Homo sapiens: one gene and its partners. The protein of the gene in region 1 purifies or fractionates together with the protein of each later gene. This does not show direct contact. Each region holds a gene or a part of one and is shown in the gene's direction. Other genes may lie near its edges.

The links.
Region 2: the proteins of MYLK (region 1) and PPP1R12A purify together in Homo sapiens (affinity purification with mass spectrometry, with the first as the bait; one large-scale study listed by BioGRID). This does not show direct contact.
Region 3: the proteins of MYLK (region 1) and ALDH2 purify together in Homo sapiens (affinity purification with mass spectrometry; one large-scale study listed by BioGRID and IntAct). This does not show direct contact.
Region 4: the proteins of MYLK (region 1) and GARS1 purify together in Homo sapiens (affinity purification with mass spectrometry; one large-scale study listed by BioGRID and IntAct). This does not show direct contact.
Region 5: the proteins of MYLK (region 1) and TARS1 purify together in Homo sapiens (affinity purification with mass spectrometry; one large-scale study listed by BioGRID and IntAct). This does not show direct contact.
Region 6: the proteins of MYLK (region 1) and RHBDD1 purify together in Homo sapiens (affinity purification with mass spectrometry, with the first as the bait; one large-scale study listed by BioGRID). This does not show direct contact.
Region 7: the proteins of MYLK (region 1) and UACA purify together in Homo sapiens (affinity purification with mass spectrometry, with the first as the bait; one large-scale study listed by BioGRID). This does not show direct contact.

The regions. Positions count from the first base shown.
Region 1 is NC_000003.12:123,699,333-123,702,832, reverse strand, and holds part of MYLK (myosin light chain kinase, smooth muscle), read left to right. Parts: intron 1-1,055; exon of another isoform or gene 1,056-1,323; coding exon 1,324-1,395; exon of another isoform or gene 1,396-1,523; intron 1,524-1,827; coding exon 1,828-2,813; intron 2,814-3,500. UniProt on the Homo sapiens protein: Calcium/calmodulin-dependent myosin light chain kinase implicated in smooth muscle contraction via phosphorylation of myosin light chains (MLC). Also regulates actin-myosin interaction through a non-kinase activity.
Region 2 is NC_000012.12:79,795,598-79,799,097, reverse strand, and holds part of PPP1R12A (protein phosphatase 1 regulatory subunit 12A), read left to right. Parts: intron 1-513; coding exon 514-604; intron 605-1,702; coding exon 1,703-1,903; intron 1,904-2,147; coding exon 2,148-2,316; intron 2,317-3,338; coding exon 3,339-3,460; intron 3,461-3,500. UniProt on the Homo sapiens protein: Key regulator of protein phosphatase 1C (PPP1C). Mediates binding to myosin. As part of the PPP1C complex, involved in dephosphorylation of PLK1. Capable of inhibiting HIF1AN-dependent suppression of HIF1A activity.
Region 3 is NC_000012.12:111,814,983-111,818,032, forward strand, and holds the end of ALDH2 (aldehyde dehydrogenase, mitochondrial isoform 1 precursor), read left to right. Parts: 3' UTR 1-2,550; downstream 2,551-3,050. UniProt on the Homo sapiens protein: Required for clearance of cellular formaldehyde, a cytotoxic and carcinogenic metabolite that induces DNA damage.
Region 4 is NC_000007.14:30,601,378-30,604,877, forward strand, and holds part of GARS1 (glycine--tRNA ligase isoform 1 precursor), read left to right. Parts: intron 1-1,656; coding exon 1,657-1,745; intron 1,746-2,118; coding exon 2,119-2,195; intron 2,196-3,500. UniProt on the Homo sapiens protein: Catalyzes the ATP-dependent ligation of glycine to the 3'-end of its cognate tRNA, via the formation of an aminoacyl-adenylate intermediate (Gly-AMP).
Region 5 is NC_000005.10:33,439,565-33,443,764, forward strand, and holds the start of TARS1 (threonine--tRNA ligase 1, cytoplasmic), read left to right. Parts: upstream 1-1,400; 5' UTR 1,401-1,522; coding exon 1,523-1,579; intron 1,580-4,200. UniProt on the Homo sapiens protein: Catalyzes the attachment of threonine to tRNA(Thr) in a two-step reaction: threonine is first activated by ATP to form Thr-AMP and then transferred to the acceptor end of tRNA(Thr).
Region 6 is NC_000002.12:226,902,054-226,905,553, forward strand, and holds part of RHBDD1 (rhomboid-related protein 4), read left to right. Parts: intron 1-3,500. UniProt on the Homo sapiens protein: Intramembrane-cleaving serine protease that cleaves single transmembrane or multi-pass membrane proteins in the hydrophobic plane of the membrane, luminal loops and juxtamembrane regions.
Region 7 is NC_000015.10:70,666,059-70,669,558, reverse strand, and holds part of UACA (uveal autoantigen with coiled-coil domains and ankyrin repeats), read left to right. Parts: intron 1-96; coding exon 97-2,835; intron 2,836-3,500. UniProt on the Homo sapiens protein: Regulates APAF1 expression and plays an important role in the regulation of stress-induced apoptosis. Promotes apoptosis by regulating three pathways, apoptosome up-regulation, LGALS3/galectin-3 down-regulation and NF-kappa-B inactivation.

The DNA.
Region 1 (3,500 bases):
TTTTTTAATAGAGGTAAGGTCTTGCTATGTTGCCCAAGCTGGTGTCAAACGTGCGAGCTCAAGCAATCCTCCCACTTCAGCCTCCCAAAGTGCTGGGATTACAGGCATGAACCACTGCGCCTGGACTACTTTACCTTTATAAGCCTCATATTTCTTACCTTATAAAAACAGTGGTGACTCTAATCTCACAGAGCTGTTCTAAGATTAAATGAGATGGCTCATGTAAAGAATCTGTCACAGAGCTTGGCACATCTGCTATTGGGTCTGAGTGCTAGTGAGACGGCCACATCCAGGGGCATGAGTGGGAGCACTGTTGTCAGAGACCCTGAGGGTCCCACCCCAGAGCCCCCTTTCCTTATCTTTAAATTGGGCATGGCAGTACTCTATACCTCTCTGGCATGCTGTGGATATCAAGAAAGAACTGCGTGTGGGTGTCATGAAAGCTGGAGGGTGCTGTATGAAATGCAGTTGTTACAACCATCACTAGTCACCTCTGGCTCGCAGACCTGCCCCCACCCCTTCCCCTAGCCTGAGCAGAACCTTCTTGTCTGGTCAGAGCTCAGAAATGCCAGCAGGTGGCAGCCTTATGGGGTTGGAGGGACAATCTGCTGCAAATCCACTGCACTGTAGCCAGACAGGGTACAGCCCCTCCCCTGAGCAGAGGGCCTGAGCCTCTGTGCACCAGCAGGAGACTGACCAGGTTTATGGACATGAAGAATCCAGAGCCCTCCCCACCTGAAGGAAGAAGAGAAAGGGCCACTCATGTAGGAAAACACTTGTTGGGTTTTTAACACAAAAAGTTCTGATCTGAGAGCATTATCAATGAGTGGGGGTTAAGGGTGCTTCCATTCCCGAGCAAGAGAGGGAAAGGAACTACTTCTGTGTTAAGGGATCATGGAGTCAGAGTCAAGGTCACTGGGCAGGCCCACCACCAGGGCCTATCTGTCTAGACCAACCTGCTACATCACAGTTCCCAGCAGGGTTAGCCTTTCTCCTTCCCCTTTTATTGGTTGAGTGAGTGAGTGATTGATTGAATGATTATATTATATACTTACAGAAAAGTGTTCCTATTTCTGGATGCCTGCCTTAGCTGTTGTCCAGACATTCTTTTTTTCTTCTTCTTTTTAAATAAGAGCTGAGAAAATAAAGGGTGACCACACAGTGAGAGGGTCCTGCCCTAAATCTAAGGCTGGGGTGAATGTCTCAGTCAAGCCGGCGACTTCCATCTTCCCCGCTGGCCAGCAGCCTGTGATCAAGTCCACACTGAACAGGCCCTTTGCCCAGAGGGCCTCTTGATCTTTATTGATCTTTGGAATTCTTCAGGAACCGGGTTGGCGAATGCAGTTGCCAGGTGTCACTGATGCTACAGAACAGCTCTGCCAGAGCCCTTCCACGGTGAGTGCCCCCAGGAGCTGCCCCTCCAGGCCATGCCCCCATCCCCACCTTCCTCCTGGCCCCGGCAGCTCCAGCCCAGCAGCCCTAGATTGTTTGTGTCCTGCAGCTGAGGCTGCCAAAGCCAGAAGGGAGAGCCTGGAAGGGGAATGAGGGAGGGAGAGCAGGGGAAGGAGGGGGTGATTTTTTTTTTTTTTTTTTTTGCACACACCCTTATAAGGCTACTGAAGTCATTACCGATGTAATAAACCAACTAAGCAAGCGAGCGCCTCTCACCAATGTTCCCATCTATAAACACAGCCTGGCCGGCCTCCCCCATCCCCTCCCGCTCCCCTCTACCCTCCCACCCTCAGGGATTTGCTCTCCCCTGAAGTTTCTTTCTTACCCAGCCCCTTTTCCTCCTGCTACTTTCCTTTTTCCCTACACTGGTTGCAGGGGGAGGGAGCCTGCCAGCTGCGAGGACCTCTGTGGTGGAGGAGTTGGTGCTGATGGTGGTGGTAGTGACCGCTATGGGTCCCTGAGGCCTGGCTGGCCAGCAAGAGGGCAGGGTTGGCTAGAGGAGGAAGACGGCGAGGACGTGCGAGGGGTGCTGAAGAGGCGCGTGGAGACGAGGCAGCACACTGAGGAGGCGATCCGCCAGCAGGAGGTGGAGCAGCTGGACTTCCGAGACCTCCTGGGGAAGAAGGTGAGTACAAAGACCCTATCGGAAGACGACCTGAAGGAGATCCCAGCCGAGCAGATGGATTTCCGTGCCAACCTGCAGCGGCAAGTGAAGCCAAAGACTGTGTCTGAGGAAGAGAGGAAGGTGCACAGCCCCCAGCAGGTCGATTTTCGCTCTGTCCTGGCCAAGAAGGGGACTTCCAAGACCCCCGTGCCTGAGAAGGTGCCACCGCCAAAACCTGCCACCCCGGATTTTCGCTCAGTGCTGGGTGGCAAGAAGAAATTACCAGCAGAGAATGGCAGCAGCAGTGCCGAGACCCTGAATGCCAAGGCAGTGGAGAGTTCCAAGCCCCTGAGCAATGCACAGCCTTCAGGGCCCTTGAAACCCGTGGGCAACGCCAAGCCTGCTGAGACCCTGAAGCCAATGGGCAACGCCAAGCCTGCCGAGACCCTGAAGCCCATGGGCAATGCCAAGCCTGATGAGAACCTGAAATCCGCTAGCAAAGAAGAACTCAAGAAAGACGTTAAGAATGATGTGAACTGCAAGAGAGGCCATGCAGGGACCACAGATAATGAAAAGAGATCAGAGAGCCAGGGGACAGCCCCAGCCTTCAAGCAGAAGCTGCAAGATGTTCATGTGGCAGAGGGCAAGAAGCTGCTGCTCCAGTGCCAGGTGTCTTCTGACCCCCCAGCCACCATCATCTGGACGCTGAACGGAAAGACCCTCAAGACCACCAAGTTCATCATCCTCTCCCAGGAAGGTAAATGAGCATGGGGGTTGGGGAAGAAGGGGCCTCTGTACCAGGGCCACTCCTAGCTCATGGAGCGTTGGTCTCGCTGACCCCTGTTAGCAGCCCATAGGTAGGCTGCTAACCTGGTTTAGCAGGTAGGAGGGCCTGCTGGGTAGGAGGGCCGCGTCCCTGTTTCCTGCTAACTCAAGGATAGGTCCCGGCTCAGGGGCCTTGGGTACATGCACCAAGGCTGGGGCTAAGGGCTGGGATCCTGGTCCTTGTGGCACATGCCCACATCTCGGCACCCATCTGGCAGAGCCCTCTCATGGCACCGCCACCTGTGGCTCCCCAGAGGAGACCTGAGCCTGAGTTAATTCCAAGCTCCGGCATGGAGAGGGCTCTGTCTACAGGCTTGGAGGTGGGGGACACAGAGGCTGGAGCCAGGGAGAAGCTCTGAGTAAAGAGCTGTTTAGAGAAGCATCTTAGGTTTGGGGAACGGTGTGCAGTGACCAGATGGCACGGAGCTCTGAGTTGGGGTCAACAATAACTTCAGTCTTGATAGCACTGTGGGTTTGAAGGGATCTGTCGGGAAACCCAAAATCCCAAAACAGCCCCTACAGCACACACTCACGGGCAGACAGAGCTACTCGCTTCCTAATTTGGATGAGACTTTTGTTTGCTGGTATTTCACATTCTTGGATGGTGGGGAGAGGAGGG
Region 2 (3,500 bases), on another chromosome or scaffold:
ATACTGTAGGTAGAGAATAATTTAAAACCCCTTTTAGTAGGTCATTAAGTAAGATGCTTAGATTATCACTTTTGGGGGATGTTTTCAGGGCTGGAGAAGAGGACCTTCCTCAGTTAAAAACAGACAAAAAATTTACTCCTTATCCATTCTGCTTAATTGGGCTAAATGAAATCCTTCTATTTTTTTCAATAGAGCTAAAATTTTTAATCTTCAGTTCTCTAAATCCTTTTTAAAAATGTGGTTCCATCTTAAAATTAAATTACATTATTTTAAAAAATGTAGTTAGGAAGTTAAAATGTGATGTTAAAATATAATTATTAAAATATAACTAGTTCCAATCTAAAAAGAAATTATAAGATTGCATTATTGAATTTCAAAGACCATTTTCTGAAGACTTTTCCTTAAAACTTACTAAGATATTAAACCTGTATGTTTTATTCATATGCATTGATAGATATTTACATTCACAGGTATTGTATTTACAACTAACGATTTTTCAATTTACTACTGTAGATCATACCTCACTCCTGTTAGGGATGAAGAGTCTGAATCCCAAAGAAAAGCAAGATCTAGACAAGCAAGACAATCTAGAAGATCAACACAGGTATAGTTAATGTAATTAATATATAAAACTTACATAAGTAGCATATAAAATATATATACACACACTGACATAAAACAAGTTACCTTTCTCTTTTTCACTTTGTTGTGAAAATATTGATGTCAGTATATAGTGTGAGTAAATCCTTAAAAGGTAAAGGTTGCTGTAGTTATTCTAGTAATTCTAGTGTGAATAAATCCTTAAAAGGTAAAGGTTGCTCATAGCCTTTTGTATGGTTACACTGCTACTATTGTATTTCATCTAATTAGCATATGCCTTTGTGTCTTTTTGAGTATTTTTTAAATCCTTATTCCTAATACAGTGTCTGGCCCAGAGTATTTGGTTAGAATAAATTAATCATATGATGTCTAATAAGTATTTAAAAGTTCTATGAATATTTGGAAATCGGGGGCAGAGAATAGGCTCGTATATTAGGTATAAACAACTAATATGCAAGTATGAAGAAAATGTCATTCAGGCTGGCGATCTCCTTACCTCCGTTTTGCCATTCTGATTATGCTGTATATGATGTATACTTTTGTGTCTTTCTGCTTTCCCACAGTTAAGAAGCTCCACAGTCCAGATTCAGCTGTCTATCCTTACCATTACTTAGCTTTCAAGCTGAACTATTTGCTAGGGCCTTAATATACTTTTTCTGTCTTTATACTTTTCACTTCTTGAAATCTAACCTGTTCTTCAAGGTCAAATCTTGAAAAATTTATCGAAATCTCTTTTAAGCCTTAACAATCATCATGCATGTGTATATAGATACATATACACACATATATATACACACACACAGACATATATATAAACATAAATATTTATAATATACAAACAGTACAGATACTGGCTATTCTTCTCTAGTTTGAACTTGTGGGGAACATTTATATGCATAGAGTATCCAGTACCTATCGTTGTGCTTGCTAATGGTGATTCTTCATAGAATGAATGTAACTTGCTGTTTCCATTTGCAAACCAATTTTAAACATGCATATTTGACTTTTAATGCATTTGTATGTAATATATCTATTTCTAAAATATTCCTTGAAACAAGCTTTAATGCATCTCATAATTATATTGATCTTTTTGTGTGTGCAGGGAGTGACATTAACTGATCTTCAAGAAGCTGAGAAAACAATAGGAAGAAGTCGTTCTACCCGAACCAGAGAACAAGAAAATGAAGAAAAAGAAAAAGAGGAAAAAGAGAAACAAGATAAAGAGAAACAAGAAGAAAAGAAGGAGTCAGAAACATCTAGAGAAGATGAATATAAACAAAAGTACTCCAGAACGTATGATGAGGTAACAGTATATCAAAAGCACATTTAAGTCAAATGGTATGAATAGTCCTTATGATCCTTAACATACAAGAGATTTATATACCAACAAACCATATGCAAAATACTGTAAAGGATTTTAGCTGGAAATTTGAATTACTTTGGCGTGATTAGTATACTACTTTTTCTTTGAAATGAATTTTTAAGTATTTTTATGTTTTTAATTGTGTTTAATGTTTCAAATGGGTTTTGATCTTAATGTTTCACAGACTTACCAGCGTTATAGGCCAGTATCAACTTCAAGTTCAACCACTCCATCCTCTTCACTTTCTACTATGAGCAGTTCACTGTATGCTTCAAGTCAACTAAACAGGCCAAATAGTCTTGTAGGCATAACTTCTGCTTACTCCAGAGGAATAACAAAAGAAAATGAAAGAGGTAAGAATACCAAATTTTGAAAACACTTTGCTTTCTTCATATAATCCTTTGGATTAGGGTTTCCTAAATAATAATTCAACAGTAAAGGAACAGCATCCTAACTTGTGATTCATCGAACCTAAACAGAAAGAATATGAAGGTTGAGAATGAGAAAAGTAGAAAACAGAAATAGAATATGGCCTGCTGTTGATACTAATATTTTTATAACCTAATACTTCACAAAAATCTTCATGTCCACCTACAACGAAAAGTTAATATCGAACTGGTGGGTGACTATTTCTAGAAGCAGTTTACTAGTGTAGTACTTCTCAGATGCTTTAAGCTATTTCTTGCCTACTGTGTAGATCATATCATTTAAATGTTTTTTTGTGAAATTGTTGTAAACTAAAATTACTAACTACATGTAATGCTCTCACTAAAACACATTTTTATGCTTATTTCTTAAAAAATACATTTCTTTCTCAACTATATATTGGCATATTGATACTCATTACCATTTCCTATTATTTTATATAAACTTTCTATTTAAATTCTGAGTAATTCCTACTTTAAATCAGATATAAGTACTAAATATAGGCATTTCATATTTTAAAGCCTAAATCTTACAGTATTAGTCATGATAATATCAGTAGTAATGTAGAATAAACAGCAGAAAATAAAGTTTTTTCCCAATTTCCAGCTATATATTTTCTCATGTTGATCATTGAGATGTTTCAGTTCTTTAAACTTCTATGTGTGAGGCCTGCATTGTGTTTGTAAAAATGTTGAACCAACATTTAAAATTAGAGATACTCACTTCAAACTTCAGATTTTTGCCATTTCTTGAAAAGTTGGCTGACCTGGCAACACTGGATCTGAATTCTCACATACCAACAATTGGCTGGAGCTAAGTAGTAGCAGCTGCCTACCTTCCATCCCCCTAGATAGTCCCCTGGCCCATTTTACCCATTGTTTTTACAATTACCTTGCAAAATATTGTCAAGATATATTGCTATATTGTGGTTCATTGCAATCCTTAACAGAGGGAGAAAAAAGAGAAGAGGAGAAAGAAGGAGAAGATAAATCACAACCTAAATCAATCAGAGAACGACGACGACCAAGAGAGAAAAGAAGATCTACAGGAGTTTCATTTTGGACACAAGATGTGAGAACCTATTAAAATACATTATTTGATAGTATTCTTG
Region 3 (3,050 bases), on another chromosome or scaffold:
CTCTCATTTGGCTTATTCTGTGAAGGATAAAACAGAGCTGACATTTGTTCATTTGTATTGATTTTATTTACATTTTTCAAAAGGAAATAGATGCAGATGGTATAGAAAGTTTCAGTGAAATGTAAATCTGATGCCCAATCCTGTGGCCCCAAGAAGTATTAACTGTGCACCCACTACATGCCAGGAACTGTACTTGGAGCCTTCTCAAGAGCTTCTTAACAATATTTTCATTTTTTATATTTTTTAATGACAGGGTCTAACTCCGTCGTCCAGGCTGGAGTGCAGTGGTGCGATCATAGCTCACTGCAGCCTCTACCTCCTAGGCTCAGGTGATTCTTCTGCCTCAGCCTCCCAAATAGCTGGTACTACAAGCATGTGCCACCACAGTCAGCTAATTATTTTTGGAGAGTCAGGGTTTCACTATGTAGCTCAGGCTGGTCTTCAGCTCCTGGCTTGAAGTGATCCTCCTGCCTTGGCACATAGAAGGGGTTACAATATACATATATTAGAGTGAGAGCATAGATGTGATGCCTGGCGATATGGCTTACTTATGAGACAGCACCTGACCTACAGCCATCTATGACTCCTACTGTATCTTCCATGCCAGGAGTAAGGGTGAGGATACCTGGCAATAATAAAAATAATAACCTGAGAGTCTAATGGCTTATTTTTTGTAGAGATGGGGTCTCACTGTGTTGTTTAGGCTGGTCTTGAACTTCTGGGCTCAAGTGATCCTCCCACCTCAGCCTCCTGAGTAGCTGGGATTATAGGCGTGCACTACCATGCATATATATATATATTTTTTTTTTTTTTTGAGAGAGAGAGAGAGAGATGGAGTCTTGCTATGTTGCTCAGGCTGGTCTCGAACTCCTGGCCTCAAGTCATCCTGCTGGCTTGGCCTCTCAAGTGCTAGGATTACAGGCATGAGACACTGGGCACAGCCCTAATAGCTTATTTTTAAAGCTATATCAAAATGTCATGCACCTGAACATTTGAAGTAACCTCTCTGATAGTACGGATATTTATCCCCTCAAAATCTCATGTTAAAATGTAATCTTCAGTGTTGGAGGTGGGGCAAGGTGTGAGGTGTTAGGATCATGGGGGTGGATCCCTCATGAATGGCTTGGTGTCCTCCCCCATGGTAATGAGTTCACTCAAGAGCTGGTTGTTTAAAAGGTGACGTGGACCTAATCCCTGTTGGACTGAACAAAAGGGGACGAACACAGCAATAAAGATAAAGACCAAAGAGTATATTTGGAAGAAGGGGTCAGGGGGCTCCTTGCTTCTAGTGAAAAAGGGCCCTGAGCTTTAGTGCCCTTTGTATTTATTGGGTAAAGGAGATAGGGAGAAGGGGGGGTGGTTGTCGGTCAGCAGCTTGATTCACAGCAGGCTCACAAGATTGCATTCTTTGAACAGTAGGCTCTAGATGTCTCAGTAGATAACCTCAAAGAGCATGGCGCCAGGGAGTGATTGCCCTCAGCGAACCTTCTGGCGGCTGAAGCAGAAGTGAGTTTGCCCACATTCTGCATTTATGATAAACAGTTTGCTGTTTGATCATATAGCCTCAGTGGAATGCTGAGTTGGTCACAACCCATGGGCATTCAGCTCTCTACATTTCCCCCTTTCTGTTTATGAATTAATTGAAAGAATGTAAGGCCAGGCTGGGCAGCTCTCATTTTCTGATTGGCAGTCCATCCAATTTTACAGACTATGAACAGAAGACAGAGACAAAACAACATTATTCCAAGGACTACATATAAGATGTTAATGTGGTGCTTTAGACAGGTCCAAGGGTTGAGGCTCTCCAGGCCTTGCTGGAATTTGGTCTAGTCTTCTAAAGAAGGCTGAAACTCTTGAGTTTGTTTATTTAAATCAAGAATTTTGTTTTGTAATTCACCGATATCAAAGGTGATGTTGGATGTGCAAGCTCCCTGCAAATGGGCTTTCACAAGGTCCCATGGATACTCACTTTGGTTATATTCTAAGTTGGTTACACAAATATGAGTGTGATTAAAATGATGGTGCAATTGCTGTTGCAATTGCAAGCTTTGTACTTGTTCTCCTAACTGTAGAGCCGTGGATTTCAACAATGCCACTTCAGTTTGTAACTCAGTGTTAATTTTATTCTGAAGTGGCCATGCTTGGTTGGCTATACGCATCCAGTTTTCCATGTACTGAGTTGTTTGAATAGAACTATGCAAAGCTACAGAGGACATCACAACGGAAGTTATTAATGTGACCAAGGAAACAATAGCAAAAATTATCATGCCTAAGGCTCTATGGGCACAATGAGTAAGTTGAGTTAGAAGATGTTTCATGAAGTGCAAAGCAGGTGTGGTAGCCCAAGGCTGGGACAGATTAACAGGAATCCATAGCCCAGGGATGCGACCCAAAATTATCAAAGTAGAGACATTATGTGTTTGCAATGTGCTATGATTAATGCAGTGACATAACTGGCAAGATTTACAGGTCAATTGGATATTGTTTACCTGGAGCTGGTCCTTCTTAGTTGCCAAAAAAGACATAAGGATTAAAAAGACAAACCATAAATTGAGTGGTGATATTCTTTACAAATGTAACATTAAGACTGTGTTGCTTACTATTGCTATCACTGGATAGTATCCCGCCATTCATAAATGGGAGTGCTGCCTTCCATAACATCTCTTGGATTGGTCCTTTCCTCCCTAGATAATGCCACTGAGGAAGAGGCGGGCTAAAGCCTGCTCCATGTCAAGCAATCTGGGTGGCAGACTGGGATTAGATCCCGGTGTGGTATAAAGAAGAAGCATTAAAATCTTGCCACCAATGCCAGCGAAGTTTGTGCCATGATTTCTGATTTTCATGTTTTCCATATAGTTGACCTTTAGGTCCCCAATCCACAATGTCTCCAGTTAACATAGATTGTTTTCTAGCCAGTGGGTCAAGACATTGGGTCCATGTCTTGGGGGGTAGTAACTATCGAAGGGAATCCATTCCATATAGTCAGCACGATTAGGGTGATTGGGCCGGGAATGGTTGGTTAGCACACCTGTTACATTAATAGAACCAAG
Region 4 (3,500 bases), on another chromosome or scaffold:
TAAGATGATTGTGTTTGTCCTTCCTGTTTTTTCTGTACGTCCCTATGTATTTCAGTGTTAGCAGTACACTGCTTATTTTCATGTAATATTGATGAACATATACTCATATCATTAACTATTCATCTAAAGCATTTTTAATGATAGCATAGTATTCTGTTTTATGGAAGTGCCATAATATGTTAGTTTGTGCCATATTGAAAGCATTAAAGTGTTTCTCATTTTTGACTGCACCGAATATCTTGATAGATGGATTTTTGGGTATATCCTTGATTATTTCCTTAATACAAGTTCTGAGCAAAGGTATACTTGTAGAGATTTTCAGTTAAATACTATTTGTTTTAAAGTTTCAATGCAGAAACTTAGATTATTCCTACCAACGTTATTGAAAGTAGGGCAGAATTTCCTTTTTTTGTGTGTGTGAGATGGAGTCTTGCTCTGTCGCCCAAGCTGGAATGCAGTGGCTTGATCTCGGCTCACTGCAAGCTCTGCCTCCCAGGTTCACGCCATTCTCCTGCCTCAGCCTCCCAAGTAGCTGGGACTACAGGCACCCACCACCACGTCTGGCTAATTTTTTTTTTGTATTTTTAGTACAGACGGGGTTTCACCATGTTAGCCAGGGTGGTCTCGATCTCCTGACCTCGTGATCCGCCCGCCTCGGCCTCCCAAAGTAGGGCAGAATTTCAGAATGTGAAACTGAAAGGAATTCTTTTATTTATTTATTTATTTTTTGAGATGGAGTCTCGCTCTGTCCCCCAGGCTGGAGTGCAGTGGGGCGATCTCTGCTCACTGCAAGCTCCGCCTCTCGGGTTCACGCCATTCTCTTGCCTCAGCCTCCAGAGCAGCTGGGACTACAGGCACCTGCCACCGTGCCTGGCTAATTTTTTTGTATTTTTAGTAGAGACGGGGTTTCACCATGGTCTCGATCTCCTGACCTCGTGATCCGCCTGCCTCGGCCTCCCAAAGTGCTGGGATTACAGGCGTGAGCCACTGCGCCCGGCCTGAAAGAGGAATTCTTGCCATTTTGTAACTCGTCATTATTCATTTAAGGTTGACTGGTGGAGAGCTAATTTTTACTATTGGCATCCGTTAGGTTCTCTTAATAATTTCAGCCAATGAAGAGGAGGAATTCTGAATGATGGCTCTATAAGATCAGGACTACCTATCATTTTAGCTACTTGTTCCACCAATAGGAACTTTGTAGAGATAATACCAATGTCAGTACAGGTTTCAGTGGCAGAAAACACTTCCCTTAAGGTTCAATGTCTATACTGAGCTGCCATGAATTCTTAACTAGTCAAATTCCCAGTGATTTTGGCCTTTGCTTAGATCACTAATAATAATGGCATAGGCATGGATTAATTGATCCTGAAGAATAGTACAGACTTTATGACAACTTGTAGAAAAGAATTGTCTTTTTATTGTCTAGTTAATGTCTTCTTTCTTATGGGAAGGAAGAATGTGGGAGAGGGTGAGAAATAGATTTGAGGAAGAATTTTCTCTGGCATCCATTACTGTCATGGATACATCATTACTATAGATATGGGAGCTTCCATCTTTGAGATGGATATAAATATTGATGGGGAATTATCTTATAAGGTAATATCTATGTGTAATTTGTATGAGAATGACAAATTGGGTTGGCATTTGTTAATTTAGGACCTCTGGCCATGTAGACAAATTTGCTGACTTCATGGTGAAAGACGTAAAAAATGGAGAATGTTTTCGTGCTGACCATCTATTAAAAGGTGAGGTTCTTCATCTCCTTCAGGTAGGATTGATCAAAATAAAAGGTTTAAACTTTCTCTCAGATGTCTTTCATTAAATTTTTTATTGAGGCATAACATTCAAAGAGCAAAGTGCACAGATCTTAAGTATATAGATCAAGTCCTTTATTTTTTAAAAAAGTTATATGTAGATAATTAGTTATATACAGATAATTTTTCTAATTAGCAAATGAATCAAGACAATACCATGACTGCTGTTGTAAAATCAACTGTGGGATTCATGTAAATTAAGAACTTTATGCTTGGATTTACTTTTTAATTGTCTAGCATTGAAACTGAAAAGTGCATTGTCCTTTTTCCCATTGATTGATATATGTCAACACTGTTCTTACAGCTCATTTACAGAAATTGATGTCTGATAAGAAGTGTTCTGTCGAAAAGAAATCAGAAATGGAAAGTGTTTTGGCCCAGGTGAGTACTCTAGAGATGTTATCAGAGTAACCTAGGTGGTCGCTGTCCTTCTTTCAGTGTTTAATGACTGTTGCATTTCCCATTATGCTGACCCTGGCCACATTGTAATGAAGCAGAGGTTAATTCTGTCCTGTATAGCGTCTCTTTTTTTGCATTTTTATTTTCTTCTCTCTTTTGTGACTAACCCTTTATTTCAGCCCAAACTAACAAGTCCGTGTTAATAGGCATTCAATTTGTCTGACCTTGGAAACTACTTTTCTGGATTTAATAGCTAAAACCACAGGAGTGACTGATGATGGGTAGTGTTCAGCACTGGTGTGGAGACTTCGGGGCAGATAACTTGATGAGCACTTTCTCACTGGCTACTTGATCTGCCTCTGCTTGGACCCTGATTTCATGCTATTATTCTTAGAACCTCATGAGCAGGTCCTGACTTTTCTGTCCTTGCTTTTCTCAGTTTGCCTATAGGCCTAAAGTTTTATAATTTGTATAATATTTAAGCTGACAAATTTTAGAGAAGACAAAAAAGAGACCACAGAGATAATTTATTCTGACCTTTTACCAATTGCAGGAATACTTTCTATATTAGAAGTAGTTCTTATCCTTTTGTTGGGTCACAGACCACCCTAAGAATGTGATCAAAACTGCACGTCTCCCTGGGAAGATGCATGTGCTCATGTATATATGTTGCTGGTGTCTCACCTCATCTGTTGGCTATTCCGTTTAGGCAAAGTACATTTCTCCAACACCATGTTTAGTCATGAGGTCTACTGAGGCTCACCTCTTAAATTTTATTTACTTCCTTGGGCAAAAAACAAAAAACCAATACTGTGATTATACCTATTTTCTTTACACCGATCTCTCTCTCTCTCTCTGCCTGAATATAGAACTCCCTAATATGTTGTTTTTCATGGGAATTACTGGATACTTTTCCACTGTTGTCCTAATTTTTTTTTTAGCATGCTTTTTTTCTCTGTGATAGTTAACTTTCCAACATAGCTAAAATAATTTCTCCTTCTTCATTTACATTGAAAACTTTCTTAATTTGGCTGTTGAATCATCTGCTGATTTATTTTGATACTTGTGGAGTGTAATTTTATCCCTTGCTTGAAGCTCATTGTTTTAGTAATTACTCATGGTTTAGAAAATTATTTCTTACATTTTGATACTGTTGAAGCCACACGTTCATCTCATTTTCTTATCCAAAGGCATGCCCTTTATTAGAAAAAATGGAAAATGCCTCTAAGTATCCCTAAAATTTTCCATTCAGAATTTTAGATTTACTGAGGTTTTGTGTATATGTTT
Region 5 (4,200 bases), on another chromosome or scaffold:
GGAGGCAACAAAAACAATTATGTTCCTTGTGATGTGTCTAAACTTTATCCTTTGCTTTGGCAGAGATGGCGTGGGGATTTAGGGGAGTGGGACCTTGAGGCTTCTTCAGTTCAGATGTCAAAACGCCATTATTTGGGGGTATGTTTCTGCGCCTCCAACACTGTTTAACAGGGAGGCTTGTTTCATCCAGTAAGGGAGTCAAGAAATGGTTCCCCGAAGAAAACGATTCTTGAAATCTGACAATAAATGAGGTGTCAAACAGGCAAAAAGTGTGTCGGAATGAGCACGGATGAGGGTAGGGTGGAAAAATCTTGGTACTTAGTCTGTGGGAAGACCTGAGGAAAAAAAGCCACTACAGTTTATAGTTCAGTGTATGGTGGGCGAACGAGATGAAGCCGAAAACTTGGACAATCAGGGATTGTCCAAGAGCAAGGGAAAGCCACCAAAGATTTTTCAGCAGATTGCCGTGATCATATTTGTATTTGAAGACTACAACGATGCTGTATGAAAAATGGATGCACAAAGCCGAATTGGGAAGCTATTGTTCCTGGAAAGTATAACCCTGAAGGCGGAGAGTTGTAGAGAACAGAACTGATGTTTAAAAAGAAAAATCCACAAAACGTGGTGGTGGAGCACGTACCTGAAGTTATGCCTATTGCGCTTCTGATTTCAAATAAGTAATTGTTTTAAATTGCCTACTAACATAAAAAAGCCCAGTCGATTCCAAACACTGGCACCCAGGCGTGAGAATCCATGGTTATTTCCTTGGGTGAGCTTTATTGTATTTTTGCGGGCGCTATGGAAATGCTCCTCCAGGCAGTACAGATCAGCAGCGGCTCGTAGTGAAGAACGTTCAAGGAAGAGTTTGTCCCGGATCAACAGGACATGGGGCTTGGGAAGCCTGGACTGCCATGAGGAAGGTCGATTCACCACTACAGACAGGGAGCCTGAGGCCTGGGTGGTGCCGACAAGTCGGCAGTCACGCCAGGTCAGGAAGCGCCGAAGCCGCGGGAAACCCTGGACTCCATCCCGGGATTTGTCCCCGTGTCGAAGATGGTATCCAGGTCGCCGAAAACTTCCCGGAAGTTTAGACCAAGACCTACTTATTATCTACGGTGTCCGGGAAGGTCCATGATTGTTCCACATAAAGTCAGAAGGGAGGAAAGGCGCACGCGCATTGGGGACTTGACTCTGGAAAGCGTCCAGACCAAGGTCAGCGGAGAGTAGGCATGTAGCTTCTGCAGTTGCTCCTCCTCACCCTCCGCGACCTGATTTCCTAGAAGGGCTCTGTCACCCGAAAAGATTTTCCACTGGCTTAGAGGAGGGAGGGCCCGCCTTCCCCCGTTATCCATTGGCTGCTCGTTCCGCCGCAAGTTGGGGGCGGGGTTAGGGCGCCTTTCGATTGCATCAGCTGGTCCAGCCGAGGCCAAGTCCCGGGCGCTAGCCCACCTCCCACCCGCCTCTTGGCTCCTCTCCTCTAGGCCGTCGCTTTCGGGTTCTCTCATCGCTTCGTCGTTCGCCAATGTTTGAGGAGAAGGCCAGCAGTCCTTCAGGGAAGATGGGAGGCGAGGAGAAGCCGGTGAGCAAACTTGGTGGGACCCAGAGACCAGCCTGGGACTCTAGTGGGTGCAGACGCTACGCTCGCGGCGGGAGCGGGGGGCAGGAAGCAGGAAGCGGCCGGGACCGCGTGGGTCGGAGAAGTGGGGGATGGTGGGACTCCTGGAAAGTCGGAACCCCCTTTGGGAACCATCCATTCATAAATTAGGGTGGGGCCTTGCAGTTCATCTGTGGGTCCATTCTCTTTACAGATGAGGAAACAGACCTTGAGTGAGCGACTTGTTCAGAGCCTCACATCTACAGTAGTTAGACGCGGAGACAGAATCAGAATCTTAGGCTTGAGGCTTCCAAACTTGCGTTTATGGCTTACTGTAAGCGGGAAACACATTGCAGAGCCTTATTTAATCAATCTCCTAAGATCCTGCGGGGGTAAAGAGCTCCATTTTAAGGAAAGGAAAACCGAGTGCCCGAGATCTGACCCAGCTTGTCCAAGTTTGGGTGGTTAAGTATACATTTTGCCCGGCACTGATCTGGGCGGTGCATGTGGGAAGATGAATAGGGCCCAGTTCCCCGACTTTGAGGGCCTCACAGGCTGATGTGTAAGAGACAGGAAAACAGCCCTAGTGCTTTGTGATCAACCTTGTGGTATTACAGAAGAGGAAGTTTAGGAAGGCACTTTAGAATTTAGTTTGGAAGAATGATTTCACCAGGTAAACAGGCAGGACGGGGCTTCCCACGTAAAGGTAGGGAAGGCAGTGAAAAGGGGCACGCAGGTGAATTGTCTTTCGGGTTGTTTGCAAGAGATATGCCAGAAGGGTTAAAGGAACAGTAATCAGAAGGATCTTAGGCAACAAGGATGTTTGAAACTTGTATTCTATACATGAAGGATCTTAAGCAGGAAGATTGTATTTGTAAAAGTCACGCTGGCATTGGGATAGAAGGTTAGGCCACATGCAGAAGGCTGTTGTAATAGTCCAAGTGAGAAGTGGTGACGTCTTCAGCTAAGGGATCCTCTATCCCAAGTCTGTGACAGGACAGTTCACTTAAAAGCCAAATTTTTTTCTTGATTGTCCACTCGAGATTGAATGGAGAAACTGCATACGGGCACATTCTAACTATGTAAATTTAATTCTAGATGATAAATGGTGACTATACGTAGATTTTTTTCACATAAAATGATATTTTTACTGTTTTGTAACTTTTTTTTTTTTTTTTTTTTTTGCTTAATAGAATGTGGTCAACAACTTTCCATGTCCATAAATATTCTCCTGTGCTATTCTTAATTGGACGTGATATGTATGGTTAACACATATGTAATTTTTCCTTCCTGTAATAATTATACAATAGTTAATATTTATTTTGAGTACTAAATACGAGTTTGGCACTGTATTAATGCATTCCATGAATTAACTCATTCAGTCTTCTTTTTTTTGAGACGGAGTCTCGCTCTGTCACTCAGGCTGGAGTGCCGTGGTGCGATCTCGGCTCACTGCAAGCTCCACCTCCCGGGTTCATGCCATTCTCCTGCCTCAGCCACCAGGCCTGGCTAATTTTTTGTATTTTTAGTAGAGACGGGGTTTCACCGTGTTAGCCAGGATGGTCTCGATCTCCTGACCTCGTGATCCGCCCGTCTCGGCCTCCCAAAGTTCTTGGATTACAGGCGTGATCCACCGCGCCCGGCCTCATTCAGTCTTCTTAATAACGCTGTGAAGTGGGTTCTGTTATTATCTCCATTATACAGATGAGAAAGCAGGCGTAGGAACAGTAACTTGCTCAAACCCAGTATCCCCGTTTTTTTCCTTCCTCAAACCCAGTATCCTATAGCCAATACTAATAACCCCTGTGCTGTTCTGAGTGAGTCAGGGACAGATCATTCCTGAGAAAGGTAATTCTGTAGCTTCTCTTCACAATCCGGTTCTGTTTCCCAACTTTTGGGTTGAGATTTTAGATTACTTGTATGTAGATGTACATACCATATATACTCAGGGAAATAGAGAACAGTTGCCTACTCTCTTCCCAGTGTTGTAGAAAAGGGGTCATAGGCCTCAGGGTTCCAGAGAGACCTGTTGTAATTTCCCAGCTCTATTACTTAATGATACAAATGGGCAAGTTACTTCTTTGAGCCAGTGTTCTTGTTTGTAAAATGGAGCCGTATTTAGAACCAGAAAACCTTTGTGGTGATTCCCTCTCTCTCTCTCCCTCTCTCTCTCTCTCTCTCTCTCTCTCTCTCTCTCTCTCTCACTACCCCTGTTCATTTGGCAAATGGTCAAAACCAAAATAATCTTATCAGAAATATAAAACTTATTTTATCATCTTTCCATTTTAAACCTGCACAGACCTGCAATTTTTCTTTCTTTTTTTTTTTTTTTTTGTTGTCGTTGTTGTTGTTGAAATGGAGTCTTGCTCTGTCTCCCAGGCTGGAGTGCAGTGGCGCGATCTCTGCTCACTGCAAGCTCCGCCTCCCGGGTTCCAGCCATTCTCCTGCCTCAGCCTCCCGAGTAGCTGGGACTACAGGCACCCGCCACCACGCCCGGCTAATTTTTTTTGTATTTTTTAGTAGAGACGGGGTTTCACCGTGTTAGCCAGGATGGTCTCGATCTCCTGACCTCGTGATCTGCCCGCCTCGGCCTCCCAAAGTGCTGG
Region 6 (3,500 bases), on another chromosome or scaffold:
TGGTAGGTCATAACCAAATCCCCAGTCCTAGCCTAAGACCTAGTAAGGTCAACAGGAAGTTGTTCCTAGTTGCAGGATTGTCCCTGAATGCTGCTTCGGATGGCATCTTCCACGTGGAGCTAAGAACAGAATGAAGCCACAGGCTTATTCAGAGACCACAAGCTTCACAACTTCTGTTTAACACATCTAATTATGATTGTAACAATACTGTCTGGTTTTGATGCTGTTACGTTTGAAGGTAGATCCCAGCCACTGATCAGAGCATTCAGATGGATCATCTTCCCCCAAAGCCCAGGGCTTCTTTCTGTCTCCACAGCACCCCCAGCTCAGGGGTAAAGTGCCCTAACCCTAGGACTGGTGAGAACCACCTTCCCAGTTCAGTTTTCTCCCTGTCTGCAGGTCCATCTATCTTCTCGCTCAGGATGTGGGTATCTCTTAGAGGGTGAAGGGAAGTGATTTGTCAAATGGTTACCAAGGGCATGGAGAAAGTTAATTTACCTCTTAAAATGACTTTTATATTCCTTTTACATTGGTGAAATTCATTCTCCTGTTTTTTTATGTGTGTGATGTTGAGAGATTCTCAGTTTTGATTGAATAAGATCATAATCTCATTTTTATTTTAAAATTGAACACTTTTATAAAGCTTAAATGAAACAAGACCAGTTAAATTTTTGAGATGGAACTTTTGTGGAAAATGCTGAATGTTGGAGGATGACGCAATGAGTTCTCCGGACTGCCAGCCTCCCTTCCCTAGATATTTGAAATTATATTAGGGCAATTAGATTATAACTCAAACTTCTGAAAACCATTTAGAGATAGATAAGAAATTCATTTCACTGTATTGTACTCTAAATTGTAAATGAGATTCAAGATTAATTGTTTAATAGGTTGAAGTTTTAAATTGAAACTTCCTTCTATGTTATTTTATATCATATATGCTTCACCATGAAGGTTGATTTGAAACCAGAGTTTCAGAAATACCAATATTATTATATTCTTTTCATCTAAATTGAAGTTATTATTATTTTTTTAACTGGTCCTGGCCACTTCTTTGTATCTCTCAAACTGCCACTTTCTTTGTCATTTTTACAACTATTAATAGGTGGCCGATTGTACTGAGCCTGAGCATAGAATAAAATAAGTACAGTGGTCCCCCTTATCTGTGATTTTGCCTTCTGCATTTTTAGTTAGCCCCAGTCAACCTTGATCCAAAAACATTAAATGGAAAATTCCAGAAATAAGCCATTTATAAGTTTTAAATTTCACACTGCTCTGCATAGCATGGTGAAATCTCACCCCGTCTCACCCAGGACGTGAATCATCTCTTTGCCCCGTGTGTCCATGCTGTCTCTGCTACCCACCCGTGAGTCACTTAGTAGCTGTTATGATTATGAGATGAGAAAAGCATAGTATATATAAGGTTCAGTACTATCTGTGGTTTCAGCCATCCAGTTGGGGGTCTGCAGATAATGGGGGGTGACTATAGAATTTCTTAGCTTGGCTGGGGAGCTAAAAGCATAGTTCCTACTATTCTTGCCAGAAAATGGGAAAAAATGTTCAATCCCATAATTTTATTATATGAAGTAGTGACACGGACAGGAGGCAGAAACAGTGGGTAGAAGAGGGCGGTTCCCAGCAAAGGCCCCACCCTCAAGCCTGGAAACCCACAGCCCTAAATGGGAACAGGCATTCCTGTTTTTGCATCCAAAAGCTGCCTATTGGCCCACCACACCCCCCTCTCCTGTATCCATATAAACCTGAGACCCCAGGCTCCAGAAGGAGACAAGGAGATGAACAGAAGAGCAGAAGAATAGCAGAACGGCGCAACAGAGAGAAGGAGCATCTGAATGCTAAGAGGGAGTTTACCTGGACATGATCGGAGAGGAGATATGTCACTGGACAGCCAAACTCCAGGGGAAGACCATCTTCCCACTCCATCCTTCTTCCACCTCCCCATCCATCCCACTGGGAGCCACCTCCATCACCCAATAAAAGCCCCACATTCATCCTTCAAGTCCACGTGTGATCTGATTTTTCCTGGATGCCAGAGAAGAAACAGGGAAACAGAAAACTTTCACACTGGCCCTCTGCCTTTGTGGAAAGGCAGAGGGTTCACTGAGCTGTCTAACCCTTAAGCTGCCTGTGGACCGCAAGGTTAAAAGAGCGCACTGTAACACACACCCACTTGGGTTTCAGGAGTCGCAGATACACACCCCTGGACGTTGCCGTGAGGCTGAAGCCTAGGGGCACTCATCCCAGCTCCTGCACCTGCCCATCTGTGTGCTCCCCTTCCCGTAAGGGGTTTAAGCATGCACGGTCACCAAACAGACAAGTTACACCACTGTGGCACATCCTGCAAGCGGGGGGGGAGGGGGGTCAGGGAACTCCTGTTTCAGTAGATATATCTGATGAAAATAATGCTCTCCTGAGGGGATGATCGTGTATGTGGTGTGTGTGCGTGTCTGTGTGTGTGTGCACGCGCATGCATGTGCCATGACTTTTAGCACGTGTGCATGTATGTGAGGGCTTGTCTGGGCAATAGTGTCATTTAGTCAGCTAATGGGAACAAGCATCAATGCTGTTCTCTTTACAAGGCTCCTGTTTGTCTCTTTCTTTCAAGTGTTCCTCATTGCATGTTCTTTTCCTGAGAGCCAGCGAGTCTTTTCATAGCTTGGAGACAAAGAAAATTACTCAGAACCATCTTGCTTGTGGTGTTTCAGGGAATCTCCCCTAGGCTGCTGCCATAGTAGGCGAAATGTATTGGTTTTGACTCTGAGTCTCGTGTAGGTTACCAAATGGCGGATTCTTAGCTCTGTGATTGCCGTGGCTCAGCAAGCACCCTGAGCTGAACATCTAGTGGTTTTAACTTACCTCCTGTTGGTCTTGGTGAAACGGTCCTGGCACACTTGAGCCATTTACTCAACATATCCTTGAGTGCCTCTCATGTGCCTGGCCCTGTCCTGGGTGTTTGGAATACATATGTAAAAGCCACATAAAGGCTATGTTCTTGGAGTCTCCATCAGGCTCTTTCATAACTTTCAGTTTCCCACCTTCTGGAATGAGAGGTCACTATTCCAGGCTGTGGGAATGCGTTCATTTGCTTGGCTTTTTTTTTTTTTTAAGCTTCTAATTTTGTATAATGTATGAATGAGACACCATTGCTGCCCTCAGGGAGTTTGTGTGTGACAGAGAGAGACGGACAGGCAGGCAGACGTGTAAGTACTGTGCCACCAGCAGACTGGCTTCGTGCCAGAATAAGGTAGGAGCCTCAGCTCTGAGGGGAGGCAGGAGAAGGAAAGAACGGCTCTTCAACTGGGGTGGCATTTTTTGACAGAGGTGCTGTTTGGCTTAGCCTATGGTCAGAGAGTGCTTGGGGGATGTGACAGTGGGGCATGTGGGAATGGAGGTAGTAGACGATGAGGTCTCCACCCTCTGACTTTGCAGAGATGGGCAAGGCCAAGTGTTGGAAGGGCTTAAACACACACCGGAGTATTCTGTGA
Region 7 (3,500 bases), on another chromosome or scaffold:
TGATGATGTGCTAACTTTCTCTAAGTTTGGCAAATAAGTATAGTAAATGTCTCATTTAGGCTTTTGTGATTGATGTCTTTTTTTTTTTCTTTTCAGTGTACTTCCCCAGGTATACCAGCCCATATGCAAAGCAGATCTATGTTAAGACCTCTGGAACTATCTTTACCCAGTCAAACGTCATACTCTGAAAATGAAATTTTAAAGAAAGAGTTAGAAGCAATGCGAACTTTCTGTGAGTCAGCAAAACAAGACCGACTGAAGCTCCAAAATGAACTGGCACACAAAGTGGCAGAATGCAAAGCTTTAGCATTAGAATGTGAAAGGGTCAAGGAGGATTCAGATGAACAGATAAAGCAATTAGAAGATGCATTAAAAGATGTGCAGAAGAGGATGTATGAGTCAGAAGGTAAAGTTAAACAAATGCAGACCCATTTTCTTGCCCTTAAAGAACACTTAACAAGTGAAGCAGCCTCAGGGAATCACAGACTAACCGAGGAACTGAAGGATCAGTTGAAAGACTTGAAAGTAAAATATGAAGGTGCTTCAGCAGAAGTGGGGAAATTAAGAAACCAAATCAAACAAAATGAGATGATAGTAGAAGAGTTTAAGAGGGATGAAGGCAAGCTGATAGAAGAAAATAAGCGATTACAGAAGGAACTTAGTATGTGTGAAATGGAGCGAGAGAAGAAAGGAAGAAAGGTCACAGAGATGGAAGGCCAGGCAAAAGAATTGTCAGCGAAGTTGGCCCTTTCCATTCCAGCTGAAAAATTTGAAAACATGAAGAGCTCATTATCAAATGAAGTGAATGAGAAAGCAAAAAAATTAGTAGAAATGGAAAGAGAACATGAAAAATCACTTAGTGAAATTAGACAGTTAAAGAGAGAACTTGAGAATGTTAAGGCCAAGCTTGCTCAGCACGTCAAACCAGAGGAACATGAACAGGTTAAGAGCAGATTAGAACAGAAATCAGGAGAACTTGGGAAGAAGATCACTGAGTTAACATTGAAAAATCAGACACTACAAAAGGAAATTGAAAAAGTTTATTTGGATAATAAGCTCCTCAAGGAGCAAGCACATAACTTAACAATTGAAATGAAAAATCATTATGTTCCTTTAAAAGTAAGTGAAGACATGAAAAAGTCACATGATGCAATTATTGATGATCTTAATAGAAAGCTTTTAGATGTAACACAAAAATATACAGAAAAGAAGTTGGAAATGGAGAAATTGCTACTGGAAAATGACAGCTTAAGTAAGGATGTAAGCCGCCTAGAAACTGTGTTTGTACCTCCTGAGAAACATGAAAAAGAGATAATAGCTCTGAAATCCAATATTGTTGAACTTAAGAAACAGCTGTCTGAACTTAAGAAAAAATGTGGTGAAGACCAGGAGAAAATACACGCTCTCACATCTGAAAACACTAACTTGAAGAAGATGATGAGTAATCAGTATGTGCCAGTTAAAACCCATGAAGAGGTTAAAATGACACTGAATGACACGTTAGCCAAAACTAACAGAGAATTATTAGATGTGAAGAAAAAATTTGAAGATATAAATCAGGAATTTGTAAAAATAAAAGATAAGAATGAAATATTAAAAAGAAACCTGGAAAACACTCAGAACCAAATAAAAGCTGAGTACATCAGCCTGGCAGAGCACGAGGCAAAGATGAGCTCGCTAAGTCAGAGCATGAGAAAGGTGCAGGATAGTAATGCTGAAATCTTGGCCAACTACAGAAAAGGCCAAGAAGAGATTGTGACACTGCATGCCGAAATTAAAGCCCAGAAGAAGGAGCTCGACACAATACAAGAATGCATTAAGGTAAAATACGCCCCAATTGTCAGCTTTGAGGAGTGCGAGAGAAAATTTAAAGCAACAGAGAAAGAACTAAAAGACCAGTTATCAGAGCAGACACAAAAGTATAGTGTCAGTGAAGAAGAAGTCAAGAAAAACAAGCAAGAGAATGACAAGTTAAAGAAGGAGATTTTTACCCTTCAGAAAGATTTGAGAGATAAGACAGTTCTCATTGAGAAGTCTCATGAAATGGAAAGAGCATTAAGCAGAAAAACAGACGAGCTAAACAAACAGTTAAAAGACTTGTCACAGAAATACACGGAAGTAAAGAATGTGAAAGAGAAGCTAGTAGAAGAAAATGCCAAACAGACTTCTGAGATACTTGCAGTGCAAAATCTTTTGCAAAAACAACATGTTCCATTGGAACAGGTTGAGGCTCTGAAAAAATCTCTTAATGGCACAATTGAAAATCTAAAGGAAGAACTGAAGAGTATGCAAAGGTGTTACGAGAAAGAGCAGCAGACAGTGACCAAACTGCATCAATTGTTGGAGAATCAAAAGAACTCTTCTGTACCCCTGGCAGAGCATTTGCAGATTAAAGAAGCATTTGAGAAAGAAGTTGGAATCATAAAAGCCAGCTTGAGAGAAAAGGAAGAAGAAAGCCAAAACAAAATGGAAGAAGTCTCCAAACTTCAGTCGGAGGTTCAGAATACTAAACAAGCATTAAAAAAATTAGAGACTAGAGAGGTAGTTGACTTGTCTAAATATAAAGCAACAAAAAGTGATTTGGAGACACAGATTTCTAGCTTAAATGAAAAATTGGCCAATCTGAATAGAAAGTATGAGGAAGTATGTGAGGAAGTTTTGCATGCCAAAAAGAAGGAAATATCTGCAAAAGATGAGAAGGAATTACTGCATTTCAGCATTGAGCAAGAAATTAAGGATCAGAAGGAACGATGTGATAAGTCCTTAACAACAATCACAGAGTTACAAAGAAGAATACAAGAATCTGCTAAACAAATAGAAGCAAAAGATAATAAGGTAGGTACAAAGTAGTCTGCACGGCTATGTGTTGGAAACCCCAGAGCAGTGCTCTTTACCACAGAATCTCACAGGAAAGTAGACACAGGTATTAACAAAGTGACCCTTTCCAGTTTAGCAACTTGCGTGCAAAAATTCCGAATTGAAAAAAAAAGTGAAGTAACACAAAAGTCAAAAGCATTTTTCCTTCTGTTTCTTTAGCTGTTCTAGCCAAGAATTCAGGAACGATGGGGAGACTTAAGGCTCACTTGTCTCATACATGAAGAGTCAAAAGCCAGTGGGTTTGTGGCATATGAAAGATGGGGAAGAGGGTGGTGGGGAAGCTCTCTTTCTGGGCTGCAAGAAACCAAGAACACTGGGGAGCATCTAGAGTTGATCTCGGTACTCACCCATAGTAGTAAACTGAGCCCTCCAATTCATTTTATGTTCTGTTGCTCATGTCTTTCTACAGACTAGAAAGTCTACATCCCCTCACCCAGAATGTCCTTTCCCTCCTTTCTACTGAGTTGAATCCTATACATTCATTAACATGTTATCCTCCTTCTTAAAGCCCTCACTGTCCAATCTAGTCTATAGTAAACAGTTCCTCCTCTAAGGTGGATGTTTTACTGTGGCTTTGCCATCCATTTAAAACATTTATATTACCTTGTTAGAATTATGTAGTT